2 linked regions of the Homo sapiens genome follow. The protein of the gene in region 2 purifies or fractionates together with the protein of the main gene of each other region. This does not show direct contact. Each region holds a gene or a part of one and is shown on either strand. Other genes may lie near its edges. The genes, in order: EHMT1 and JARID2.

Region 1 (3,815 bases), on a different chromosome or scaffold from region 2:
AGCACATGCACCAAATGCCCCAGTGGATCTAAAAAGACCCACATTACAATGAGGTACAACTTCAGACCAGTGGGGTTCAAGGAAAGTTCCTAAAGTCTCCAGAAATAATAGGTCACACACAAAGGATCAGAAGTCAGACTGCACCAGACTCAAACCTGGCACTTGAGAAACAGGGGATCCAACACCGGGATCAGGGAAGGGGCGTCACAGGGGGACAAACAGCGTCGTGTGTCTGAACCCAGAGACAAGCGGGCAGCGTTCAGATGGTTCAGAATAAATTAGCAGGTGGCAGAGTCAACTCAACCAACAGAAACACAAGCCAGTGATTAACGACAGACACAACATACCCTGTAGACGACGTGGTTCAGCTTGAAAATGCTCACACGATCTGATCTAAACAAAATGGGAGCCAGTCAACGGGGCTGGGGGAGGGGCGTCCGTGCCTCTGCGAGTGCTTGGCTCCCCCAGAGGGACGTCATGAGTGTGAAGAACCAAAACCAAAACCAAAGAAAGCAAATCAAGAAACAGCCAAATGGCGGCATGCTCTTCTCAAAGGCCGTGGTAAATGCCGGAAGAAACAGCGGGAAGCACTGATCCACCTGCAGGACTCGGGGGCAGAAAAGCTGACTCTGTGCCCGATTCACAGCACTACGGAACTCTTACACTGGAAGAACCGCGAACGTGGTATGATTTTACTTTGGTAAAAATAAAAGAGAGCAGGTGAAGAGCCCTAGGAGGGCGCCGTGCCGCCGCACCTGAACCAGCATGTGGCAGATGTCCACGTGTCCAGCCTCTGCCGCGGCGTGCAGTGGAGAGCGCTTATTCTGGTGCTCCATTTTGAAGTTGGGGTCAATTCCGTCCACTGTGAACAAACACAGTTTTATTAATGATTTCAGATGTAGCCACAGACTCCAGCTCAGGACTGTCACGATGGCTGGCAAGCACTCACAAATGACCATCCTCCACATAAACAGCCACCTCGAGCCACGCCGGAACCCGCCCACAGCACCATCCTCTGGACTTGAGACTTGAGTGTGCTAGTCTCCTGCGGAATTGAACAGGCAGGTCCCTCTGTCAGAACTAACTCGGCAAGGCACGCTCTTCCCTTTACCACCCTGCTCTAACTCTGAGGTTCCTTCTGTGTTTCTGTGTGGCCTGGCCATGGCCGCCCCAGGCCCAGTGAGGCGGCTGACCAGGGCAGACACACCCTAGGGGAGCAAGCAAGGCCGGGGACAGAGGCCTGAGCATCGGTCAATTCCCAGGAGGTCTGAGAGGACGGTGAGCAACGGAGCAGTGAGGTGACCTTCACAGGTGTCCTGTGAAGTCCATGACAAAATGATTAAAACTGCTGGTCAACATAAATAAACCTTTCTTTAAAAGCAAATAGTTTCACTTCTTTTTACTTGACGTACTGTCCAGTAAAGGGCTTCTTAATCATCCTTTTCAACCCAGAGACGATGAACGTCAGAGAAATCAAGCCTAAAGCTATGAGCTCAGAGACCAAATTATCACTGGGAAGGCTCTCTAACAAGTATGCTTTTGCGTATTAGAAATCTAATGCAATCGGTTTGCCTGTTATAAAATACCTATAGCTGAAGCCTACTTTGTCCACACCACAGCTGCTGCGATCAGCACAGGTGAAACATCGACTGCCGTCATCACCACACATTCCAGCGTCATGACCACACATCTCAGCATCATCACCGCATATCCCAGCGTCATCACCACACATCTCAGCATCATCACCACACATCCCAGCGTCATCACCACACATCCCAGCGTCATCACCACACGTCTCAGCGTCATCACCACACGTCTCAGCGTCATCACCACACATCTCAGTGATGCCGTCATCACCACACATCTCAGCGTCATCACCACACGTCCCAGCGTCGTCACCACACGTCCCAGCGTCGTCACCACACGTCCCAGCGTCGTCACCACACGTCTCAGCGTCGTCACCACACGTCCCAGCGTCATCACCACACGTCTCAGCGTCATCACCACACGTCTCAGTGATGCCGTCATCACCACACATCTCAGCGTCATCACCACACATCCCAGCGTCATCACCACACATCCCGGCGTCATCACCACACGTCTCGGCGTCATCACCACACGTCTCGGCGTCATCACCACACATCCCGGCGTCATCACCACACATCCCAGCGTCATCACCACACGTCTCAGCGTCATCACCACACATCTCAGTGATGCCGTCATCACCACACATCTCAGCGTCATCACCACACATCCCAGCGTCATCACCACACATCCCGGCGTCATCACCACACGTCTCGGCGTCATCACCACACGTCTCGGCGTCATCACCACACATCTCAGTGAGATGCCGTCATCACCACACATCTCAGCGTCATCACCACACATCCCAGCGTCATCACCACACATCCCAGTGTCATCACCACACATACCGGCGTCATCACCACACGTCTCGGCGTCATCACCACACGTCTCGGCGTCATCACCACACATCTCAGTGAGATGCCGTCATCACCACACATCTCAGCGTCATCACCACACATCCCAGCGTCATCACCACACATCCCAGCGTCATCACCACACATCTCAGTGATGCCATCACCACACATCTCAGCGTCATCACCACACATCCCAGCGTCATCACCACACGTCTCAGCGTCATCACCACACGTCTCAGCGTCATCACCACACATCTCAGTGATGCCGTCATCACCACACATCTCAGCGTCATCACCACACATCCCAGCGTCATCACCACACATCCCAGCGTCATCACACGTCTCAGCGTCATCACCACACGTCTCAGCGTCATCACCACACATCTCAGTGATGCCGTCATCACCACACATCTCAGCGTCATCACCACACATCCCAGCATCATCACCACACATCCCAGCGTCATCACCACACATCCCAGCGTCATCACATCTCAGCGTCATCACCACACATCTCAGCGTCATCACCACACATCTCAGTGATGCCGTCATCACCACACATCTCAGCGTCATCACCACACATCTCAGCGTCATCACCACACATCCCAGCGTCATCACATCTCAGCATCATCACCATACATCTCAGCGTCATCACCACACATCTCAGCGTCATCACCACACATCTCAGGGCCACAACTCACTAGTTTTGCTTTTCCTTAATCTCTATTTCTGCTTGATTTAATAATCACATACCAATTCCTTTTTAAAAATTAGAACTTCGTAGAGAATAGTTCTAATATCTTGCGTAACTGGATATGAACACCATAAAAAGCCTCAACACCAGTGGGCAACCTATTCTCACTCATCAGAGAACTCGGAGACACAGAAACAGAAAACCAAAACGAGACCAGCCTCCTGAGGAAGGAGTAACAACTGCTCTCGGCTTCTTTCAGTGCCACAGGGCCGGCTGCATGTGCCCGGGCCGCAGGAAGGCACTTACCCAGCATGAGGAGCACCTTCTGAAGCTCCCCTTGCCTGGCGGAGAAGTACAGCTGCTTTGGGTGGAAGCGAAGCTTCTTGGGTCTGTGGGAAGCACAAGACAACAGTCAGCATGGGGCTCTGCATCCCACACATGAAGCTGAAGGCTGGAAGGCCCGGCGGACATCTCCCCACCAGCCCCTCAAGCTCATGGGGCTCCGCGTCCCACACATGAAGCTGAAGGCTGGAAGGCCCGGCAGACGTCTGCCCACCAGCCCCACAAGCTCAAGTGCAAACCCACCAGTCGAGATATCTCATGGTAAAAACTGCGGACAAGAAACTGCGTTCCCAGTCACCGCAGGAGAACACTACGCACTGTGAGGCTTTTACACAACACGACGA
Region 2 (3,815 bases):
CTTGGGCTCGAAGCGGGGCAGAGGGTGGAACTTGTGGTGGTCGTTCTCTGTGTGGCCTTCCAGCGGCCCCTTGCGCTTCTCCAGGATCTCCTTCTCCATCAGCACCTCCTTCTCCAGCCGCCGGTGCTCCTCTGGGGACAGGGAGTCGTAGGAGAGTAGGTACTGGCAGTAGGCCTCCTGCAGCTTGGCCAGCCGGTCCTGGGCAGTTCTGGGGATGCGCAGCATGTCTGCTAGTTTGTTCCATTTTTTGAGGTCAGTCACTTGCTGCATGCCGCCCATCTCATTAATCAGCCGGAAAAAGCAGGCCAGGTCGAGCTCACAGCCCCCTGGGACAGCGAAGGGGAAAAAAACGGGACAGTTAGTGAAAGAGACACGAACAAGATGTTCCTCATTCAACCTGTACTTCTTGAACTCCTACTATGAGCCAGGACTCTGACAGGCTCTGGGGTGAGAGTGGTGAACAGCAGACTCCCGGTCCACAGAGAGAAGGGCGTTACAAAATGATGGGTCATGACCACTTGCTACGAAGAGCAGGTGGAACGAGGGACTACCATTTTAGGTGGGGAGCGTCTGAGGAGGCAGCATTTAAGCTGGGGCTTGGCTGGAAAAGGATGCGAGCTGGCCAGACAGACATACAGGGAGGAACATCCCAGTGTACCATGTACTGGTACATGTGTTGTCACATGGAGGCGGGTGTCATGAGAAGACTAGCTCCCTGGTGAGGAGTGGGTAGGGGTCCTGGCTGCACCCACGGCCCAGCGTCACCTAGAATAGCTTTGACACATGCTTGTTACCAACTCCCAATTCCCCTTCTATAATTCCCAATGCCCACCCACTCACTCACTCAACTTCACCCATCCACCCACTCACTCACACAAAGGAAGTCTATTTTCCATCCTGCTGGATTTCCAGAGCAAAGAGCAACACCTGCGTGAGGACACAGGGCAGCACATCTATGCCTCGTCCCTCGCCCATCCAGACAGCGGGCTGCTTCTCAGTGCATAAGCTGGTGCTCAGTGCCCCTCCTGATCAGGCCACAGAGCAGCGCAAATGCACATCAAACCTGGGCAGGTTTTAACGCGCGCCCAGTGGCTTTTCTAGATGGGAATGGAGAAAGCAACCTCCCTCGGGCCAAATAAAGGAAGGGGGGTAGGGGAGATTTTCCAAAATAACCATCAACAAAATACTAAACAAAGTACAAATTAACAACGTTTTAAATCTTTAGAGTGTGGGGATATATTGTTTTTAAGTAATAAAAGGTAAAGTGTGCACGGATCCAGTCCAGGCAGGGTCGCTGCACATACCAAGCATGACAGGACCCACTAGGTGAAGCGTCTGAACCACCTCGGCAGACACAGCACACACAGAGAGCGAGTTCCCAGCACACCAGCAAGACCAGGGATGGGGACACAGCAGCCTGAATTCCACTCACACTAAATGGCAGGACAGTGGACTGATGTGGTTGTGGAGAACAGGGGAGTTGGGGTAACATCCATGAGGGAACTGTCCCCAGCCTCGACAGGAGGGACCTAAGAACTGAGACTCCACAACAAACTCCAGGTCTCACAGACTCCCAGAGTCACAGGTGGGACTCACGGTGGCTCTGGCTGACAATCGGGAGTTCTTCCTCCGAGGGCAGGTGGGTACTGTCTCAACTTACAGAGGTAGGCACCAAAACGAGTCCCCCAACCAAAACAAGTCCTCCACCGTCCGAGTGACTCAGAACACAGGTCACAGAAGGGAGGAAATCCACACTTTCATATTTCACTCTAAGTAGATTATAACGCAAGAGCACCTGAAAATCACACAGCGCTTGCAAGAATTCTTCATGGAATCCTCATCCGCTGCGATCACTCCCACTCAGGGCCTTGAGGCTGCTACGTGGCCGAGCCCCTTCCCCACCCAACTCCCGCCAGCGGCACGGCGGCTCCCTGGGACCTGCGGTGGAAGTGAACCTACACAGAGGCAGAAGGCACATCTGCTGGGGTGGATTTTAGGCTATTACTTCAAAGTTATTAAGTTTCTACCACTGTCAGATGGCTGAGCTCAGACCCCAGCCCTGAGGCCTTGCTGGGTCACAGACAGGTCAGTACCCCTGGGACAGAATGTCAGACGCCTTAGACTTCTGGGTGACGGCAACAAGCATAAGCACACCACAGGGAGGCACAGTATGGCTTTTGTCCCAGGGTAAGGGAGTCGAGGGTAAAGAAAAACCTACTCTAAACAAAAGGCGCTGTCACTACGATGTCAAGTGTGCTCTCGAGGCTCCATCATCCACCTAGCAGAGGAGGGAAACTTGGAATGTTTCCCTCCTGTCTGCAGGTCTCCAAAGGCAGGAGGACTTGGTGCGGTTCCATCACTGACTCAGTCATCCTGTGTCCCAAGTAGTCATGGGGCGTGGTCAGCGGGCGTGGGTGCACGCGTGTGCAGAGCCTGCTCCCTGCACTGCTTCCTATCACGTGCTATTCCCAACAGCAGAGCACAAACCAAGAACTCTTGCAAGTTAAGGTGACTGTCACTCAGGCATCAGTCCTGGCAGGCACCTGCTGAGGGGAACCACGAAACCTCCATCCTGCCTGGAAGCCTATCTTGCTGCCAAATCCCTGACACTTAAATGATGGCTACACGTCTCCATGCCTTTGAAAATTGAGGATCTCCAAAATGGAGGTGTGGCCTGTTTCCTCCCATGGGTCTAGACTGATGGGGTTGCAACCTTACCTGGATGCACCTCACTCCACAGAATCCACTTAGCCTTAACAAGGCAAGTTCATCCTCACCCTGTGTCCCCAGTGGCAGGACTGAAGAGAGGATGACAGGGAAGGAGGGCTACAGGGGAACCCAAGAGGAGGATCTGCCTGCAACCCACCCTGAGGAGCAAGGGTCTGCATGACAGCCCAGATATGCATTCACTAAGGATCCACTGTGACAAGTTTCCAACAGCCCCAGCCAGAGCTCAGAAAAAAGGTCTCAGAAAAAACCTGGTCTCAGAAAAAAGGTCAACAGATCCCTTGACCTGTGGCCTTGACAAAATCGCCAGAGAAACTGAAGCTCAGAGGAAGAAGAGACAAGGCTGAGCAGGATAAAAAATGGCCTACAGGACCCTAGAGGGCTATGGGCTGCATGGTGATCCCTCCAAATTCATATGTTGAAGCCCTGACCTCCAGTACCTCAGGACATGAATGAATTTGGAGACAGGGTCTTCAAAAGGGTAATTATGTTAGAAAGAGGTCAGTAGGATGGGCCCTAATCCAATGTCCTTCTAAGGAGAGGAGATGAAGACACAGACACACATAGAGGTAGGACCCTGTGAGGACACAGGGAGAAAACAGCCATGCACAAGCCAAGGAGGGAGGTCTTGTTGGTTTCGGGAGAAACCAACCCTGCTGGCCCCTAGACCTTGGGCTTCCAGCCTCTATAATCCAGTGTGGAATCCAGAGGGGCAGCGCTCCCCACTGGCCCCCCGGCCCCTGCTTTAACTCCAGCAGTTGTGGGTAGGAGGTGACAGCCCAGGGGAAGCAAGGGGCCCAGACCCAGAGTGGGGGCTCACCCCAGATCCAAGCTCAATACTTTTTTTTTTTTTTTGAGACGGAATCTCACTCTGTCACCCAGGCTGGAGTGCAGTGGTGTGATCTCGGCTCACTGCAAGCTCCGCCTCCTGGGTTCACGCCATTCTCCTGCCTCAGCCTCTCCAAGTAGCTGGGACTACAGGCCCCCGCCACCACGCCCGGCTAATTTTTTTGTATTTTTAGTAGAGACGGGGTTTCACCGTGATCTCGATCTCCTGACCTCATGATCTGCCCGCCTCAGCCTCCCAA

What was found.
Region 1: the proteins of JARID2 (region 2) and EHMT1 purify together in Homo sapiens (affinity purification with western blotting, with the first as the bait; one study listed by BioGRID). This does not show direct contact.

What each region holds. Positions count from the first base shown.
Region 1 is NC_000009.12:137,779,338-137,783,152, reverse strand, and holds part of EHMT1 (histone-lysine N-methyltransferase EHMT1), read right to left. Parts: intron 3,519-3,815; coding exon 3,436-3,518; intron 863-3,435; coding exon 756-862; intron 1-755. UniProt on the Homo sapiens protein: Histone methyltransferase that specifically mono- and dimethylates 'Lys-9' of histone H3 (H3K9me1 and H3K9me2, respectively) in euchromatin.
Region 2 is NC_000006.12:15,497,418-15,501,232, reverse strand, and holds part of JARID2 (protein Jumonji), read right to left. Parts: intron 327-3,815; coding exon 1-326.